2 separate regions of the Homo sapiens genome follow, and region 2 is linked to region 1. Evidence: fine-mapped QTL for protein levels in blood plasma. A gene starts in region 1. The other region holds a variant in brackets. All regions are shown on one strand. Distances are from middle to middle.

The links. PIP is the chance, under the fine-mapping model, that this variant and not a neighbour inherited with it causes the effect. The UK Biobank Pharma Proteomics Project read protein levels with antibody pairs (Olink). The fine-mapping took linkage between variants from a reference panel, not from the people measured, so its PIPs are less certain.
Region 2: its variant is fine-mapped to the plasma level of the SIRT2 protein (UK Biobank, PIP above 0.99). The variant lies in the coding sequence of SIRT2. If it changes the protein, the assay may bind it differently, which can mimic a change of level.

What each region holds. Positions count from the first base shown.
Region 1 is chr19:38,898,106-38,901,008 of GRCh38, reverse strand. SIRT2 (sirtuin 2) reads left to right here and starts at 1,391. Exons shown (of 16, transcript NM_012237.4): 1 at 1,391-1,503; 2 at 2,584-2,630. The coding sequence starts at 1,488. It overlaps NFKBIB (NFKB inhibitor beta), which reads right to left and starts at 1,040. Exons shown (of 6, transcript NM_002503.5): 1 at 798-1,040. The coding sequence starts at 976.
Region 2 is chr19:38,887,704-38,890,606 of GRCh38, reverse strand. It overlaps SIRT2 (sirtuin 2), which reads left to right. Exons shown (of 16, transcript NM_012237.4): 5 at 463-504; 6 at 646-752; 7 at 862-918; 8 at 1,452-1,520. Among named protein-coding and RNA genes, the nearest start is that of SIRT2, 10 kb to the left of the region's middle. The variant G/A (reference allele first, on the strand shown) is at 1,477.

The DNA of each region.
Region 1 (2,903 bases):
AACTACCTCTGACTTTATTTCCTTTTCTTACTTTCTATGTTTCTTTCTTTCTGCGTGTCTTTCTTTGTTTCTTCCTGTCTTTCCATTTCTTTCCTTCCTTGTGGTCTTATCAATCTGTTTATTTAGCTCCACTAAAATGTATGCTCCACAAGGGCTTAAGTTTTTGTTTGTTTTCTTCACTGCCTTTATCACTAGCACCTAAACGGAGCCTGGAACGTGGTAATGTGTAAAGAATATTTGTTTAACAGATGAATCCTTGGTCTCATGGAGCTAACATTCTTTTTTTTAATTTTCCTATTTTTTTACTTTAATTAGGAATTCAACATAGAAGAGCTTACATTCTCTCTCTTTGAATTTAAGATTTGAAGAACACTGCTCAGAAGACAGGATCTTAGAGTCAGGGACCAAGTATTAATTTCGGAAATCAAACTCTAGGGCTCAAATCGGGAACTAAGAATCAAAGATCATATTTGGAGGTTAGAAGTCAGGAGAAGCCACAGTTCTAACAGAAGTCTCAGGACTGGAGTCAGGTTTGGGTATCAGTGGATACAATGTGGATTCCAGGAGCTGAGAATCATAGTTCAAGAAAAGAAGGTAAGAAATGATTGGGTTAGGATCATAGCTAGATAGAAGATTGGTTTTGTTAAAAGTTAGGACTCGGGGGTTAGAGGTCAGGAAGTTCAGCATCGGAAGTCAGATTTAGGAGTATGAGGTTAGGAAGCCTCAGGGATCAGAGATTAATGAGGAATGTGACGCCGGGTCCTAGGGCTCCGTTTGGCAGCCTAAGGTTCACTCACGTGTCCCCATCCTCAGTGACGTAGCCGAAGACGAGGGGAGCCCACGACAGCCCCGGGCCCAACTCCGCGCCCAACCCAGGTCCTCCGGGGGCCGCTGCGTCCGGACCCAGGGAGCCCAGGCCGCTGTCGCACCATTCATCTGCGTCGGCAGCTTTTCCCAAGCACGCGACCCCAGCCATGGCCCCCGCCGCCTCAGGGGCCCCCCGCAGTCGCCCGCCTGTAGCTGGGCTTTGCCGGGAGTTCTGGAGCTTCCGCCCTGCGGGAAATTCCCCACCACGCCCCCTGATTCACCCAATGATAATATGCTGAATCGCTCACACCCCGCCCTCGTACTGCATCCTGACCAATCAGAGTATTCGGGAGGACTACAACTCTCTAGCCGTTCCCACATTTTCCGGGCGCCCTTTACCAACATGGCTGCTGACGCCACGCCTTCTGGGACTCGTAGTCCGGTCCTCGCGCGCTTTCTTACCTAACTGGGGCGCTCTGGGTGTTGTACGAAAGCGCGTCTGCGGCCGCAATGTCTGCTGAGAGTTGTAGTTCTGTGCCCTATCACGGCCACTCCCATTTCTGGTGCCGTCACGGGACAGAGCAGTCGGTGACAGGACAGAGCAGTCGGTGACGGGACACAGTGGTTGGTGACGGGACAGAGCGGTCGGTGACAGCCTCAAGGGCTTCAGCACCGCGCCCATGGCAGAGCCAGACCGTGAGTCGGGGATCCGGGTAGGAGGGTCGGGCCGCGCCGGGGCCTGGCTGAATGCTGCAGGCCCCGGGGCCCAAGGGTGGCCGCGGTGGGGCGGGAAGTAGGGAGCGCTTCGGGGAGTGGGATTCTGAGGGCTGTTGCTTAGCGATCTGTATCGCTAGGCTGGTGGGTTTCTGGGTCGCAGTGTGTTCAGGGTTCGTTTACCACATCCACTTGCCAAGTTGCCAATGATCGCGTGTTTCTCGCACCTTGGTTGCTAAGGTCCCTCGCTGCAAAGAACATAAGTTGCCCCGGTCCCGCTTGCTATGGGTACCTGATTGTTAGAGGCAACCAGAGGATGCTGAGGGACCCCTGCTGACCCCTCCTATGGCTTCCCCTTGTTCCGCGCCTCTCCTAAACCTACCGCCTCCACTGCACCACTGCACCTCCCTCCTAAACCTGCCTCCCAGCCAAAGCGTCTCTTCCCTTCTCTTTTCCTTTCTAAACTTCCCTCTGCCTTGTAAATCTAACCCTCCCCGCACACACACTCACACACTGTCGTGTCCTTCCTAACTCCTCCTGAGTGTTCCTTCATGCCCTGAATCCCCTAGGTAGGAGGAGGAGGATCGCTTGAGCCCAGGAATTTGAGGCTGCAGTGAGCTATGATCGCACTATTGCACTCCAACCTGGGTGACATGAGCGAGACCCTTTCTCTAAAAAGTAAAAAAGAAAGAAAGTAAGTCAGGGCCAGAAACAATGGCTCATGCTTGTAATCCCAGTACTTTGGGAGGCCAAGGTGGTTGGATCGCTTGAGCCCAGGAGTTCAAGACCAGCCTGGGCAAAAGCCCCTACTTTCTCCCTGTCCCCCTAAATCTTCCTCTCCAGCCTCTCTGCCCCTCACTAATCACCTCTCCCGGCATCACTTTGCATGTAGATAAGATCTTTTCTCCGTCCCCTCCCTCCCTCTGCTCCATTTTTACCACCATCCCATCCCAGTGTAACTAGGTTGGTGGGTGTTCTTGCCCCCTCACTGACCATTTGAACCCCTTTATTCCCCCCTTAATCGTTCTCCCCACTGTAACCACCTCTGCTCCCCTCCCCCAGCCTCTCACCCTCTGGAGACCCAGGCAGGGAAGGTGCAGGAGGCTCAGGTGAGATGGGGGAAAGGGTGGAGGGGAGGAGAGAGACGGACTTGTTCCACATCCCACACTGGGGGGAGGTGGCAAAGGGGAAACAGTCACCCCAGGGCCCTCGGCTCATTGCCCCAATCCCTCACACCACCCAGTGCAGCTTTCTGGGGAAAGGCAGATTCTGGGGATTGTCAGAGAAGAGTTTCCAGCCTCAAGTCCAGGCCTGTCCTCCCAAACTTTCCTTCTTCCTTGCCACTGCCTGCCATCCCTTCTGAACCACATTTGTCCTGGGAC
Region 2 (2,903 bases), 10 kb after region 1:
GTGATTCTCCTGCCTCAGCCTCCCAAGTAGCTGAGATTACAGGCACGTGCCACCACGCCTGGCTAATTTTGTATTTTCAGTAGAGATGAGGTTTTGCCATGTTGGCCAGGCTGGGCTCAAACTCTTGACCTCAGATGACCCGCCTGCCTCAGCCTCCCAAAGTTCTGGGATTACAGGCATGAGCCACTGCACCCAGCCCAACACTGGATTCTTTATCCGCTGGCTGGCTCTTCCGCAGTTGATTGTGTGACTTCTTCCCCTATCTGAGCCCCAGTTTTCTCATTTATAAAATGGGGATGTTAACACCATCCCCGTCTAGATGATTGGAAGGCCCGTCATGCATCTGAGATGCTTGCCCCAGGGCCTGGCATGGAGTAAACGATGTCAGGGGCTGTGATGGGTGGTGCTATCGTAGGGACTGAGCAAACGGTGTCATATGGTGCATAAGTTCCTCTCCTCCAGGTCGCAGAGTCATCTGTTTGGTGGGAGCTGGAATCTCCACATGTAAGTAACCCTTCTCCCCCAGCAGCTACCCCCAGGAACTGGGGAGTCCCTCCCAAGGGCTGGGGAGGAGCCCTATCTGAGCCCTGTCCTGGGAGGGTTAGTATGGTATAGACCAACTGCTCCCTGACCCCCCTTTCCTAGCCGCAGGCATCCCCGACTTTCGCTCTCCATCCACCGGCCTCTATGACAACCTAGAGAAGTACCATCTTCCCTACCCAGAGGCCATCTTTGAGATCAGCTATTTCAAGGTTTGTGCTCCCCCAGGAAGGGGCGTCTGTGAGGGGTGGGGATGGGGTCACCTGGCTCCAACCCTCACGCTACCTGGGGCATCTGGCCCTCTGGCTGTCTCTCCTACAGAAACATCCGGAACCCTTCTTCGCCCTCGCCAAGGAACTCTATCCTGGGCAGTTCAAGGTGAGATCTTTGTTTTGCAGGGGGCGAAACAGGAAGGGTTGGGGGAGGGCACGCATGAGAAGCCCCGCCAAGGCCCTGCAGACAAATATTATGTAGCCATTAAGTACATGGGTGCTGGGCCCAGACTGCCTCGGTTCAAGTCCTGGTTCCTCGTGTCTTCATCTTACGACCTTGAGCCTCCGATTTGCCTCCTGTGAAGTGAAGCTAATGGTACTGTCTGAAGAGGGCTGCTGCGAGGCTTAGCTGACTAATGATGCCGTTGAGAGCCCGGGACCCTGCAGCCGGGCTGCCTGGGTGTGAATCTCAGCTCTGCAGCTTACCCACCGTGTGACTTTGGCAACACAATCCCCTTCCCTGTCCTTCAGTTTCCTCATCTGTGATCTGGGGATAGCAGTGGTCTCTCCCCGACGCGGCTGCTGTGACGGTTCCCTGGGGGTAAAACAGTCACAGTGCCTAGAACAGTTCCTGGCATGCGGCAGTGGCCTGTGGCTGTTCCCTGCAGTCGTCAGCAGTGCTGTCGCTCTTCCCTGCAGCCAACCATCTGTCACTACTTCATGC[G/A]CCTGCTGAAGGACAAGGGGCTACTCCTGCGCTGCTACACGCAGGTAGGCGGATGCGAGCATCCTGGGAGGAGGATGGGCGGGTGGAACGGGCATGGTGTCCTCAGCAGAGGAGCAGAGCTGCGTGCCCAAGAGCTCAGGCGGGGACTCCAGCAATGCGGGGCCAGGGCTTGGCCTACTGCCTCCTTGCTGCATGACCTGCCGTGAGTCACGTCTTCTCTGCCTCAGTTTCCCCTTCCGTCAAACAGGGGCCAGAAAAGGTTTGCCCTCTCAGGTCTGCCCTCTCAGGTCTGCAGTGCGGTGGCAGTGACCTCCTCTCAGGGCCATCCCATGTGTGATGTGGAAGGAGCCTATGGCTGAAGGGACTCTGTGTGCACTATAGGCACCCCAGATTTCACATTGGTTATGAGCGAGTTTCCAAAGTGACTTCATCTAACAAAATCCATACACTATGACACGTGTCCAACAAGTAGATGTTGTGCCTTAAGGAAGGGGCACCTTTTTATAGTTTTTTGTGCTTTGCCCAATTATAAACATGTCTCGTACACGTCAGGTGCTTAGCCAAGGGCCTCTCCCTGGGGCATTCAAGCAAGGATGGCTCACATTGTTGGCTTCTGGTTTGGAGAGTCTCACACCCCTAACAGTAAAAAAATCTTGATGGGCTGGGCACAGTGGCTCACACCTGTAATCCCAGCACTTTGGGAGGCCAAAGCGAGAGATAGCTCGAGCCCAGGCGTTTGGGACCCGCCTGGGCAACATAGGGAGACCCTGTCTCTACAAGAAATACAAAAATTAGCTGGGCAGGGTGGCGTGTGCCTGTAGCCCCAGCTACTCAGGAGGCTGAGGTAGGGGGATTGCTTGAGTTCAGGAAGTCAAGACTGCAGTGAGCTATGATGGTGCCACTGTACTGTAGCCTGGGAGACCTGGTTTCAAAGAAACAAAAAACAAATCAAAACAACAACAAAATGTTGCTGCCTCTACCTGTTTTATGAATATGTATAGAAATGACATGATGCACTACAACAGTATTAATTCAAGCTCTAGATCACACCTCAGAACCCCGAATTATAAAACAGGTGGCCGGGCGCGGTGGCTCACGCCTGTAATCCCAGCACTTTGGGACACCGAGGTGGGCAGATCACGAGGTCAGGAGTTCAAGACCAGCCTGTCCAACATCATGAAATCTGGTCTCTACTAAAAATACAAAAATTAGCCAGGTGTGGTGGTGCCTGTAACCCCAGCTACTCGGGAGGCTGAGGCAGGAGAATCGCTTGAACCTGGGAGGCAGAGGTTGTAGTGAGTCAAGATTGTGCCACTGCACTCCAGCCTGGGTGACAGAGCAAGACTCCATCTCAATTTAAAAAAACAAACAAACAAACAAAAAAGAGTGGTAACATTGAAAATAAATAAGTGTTCTAGTGTTTTCTC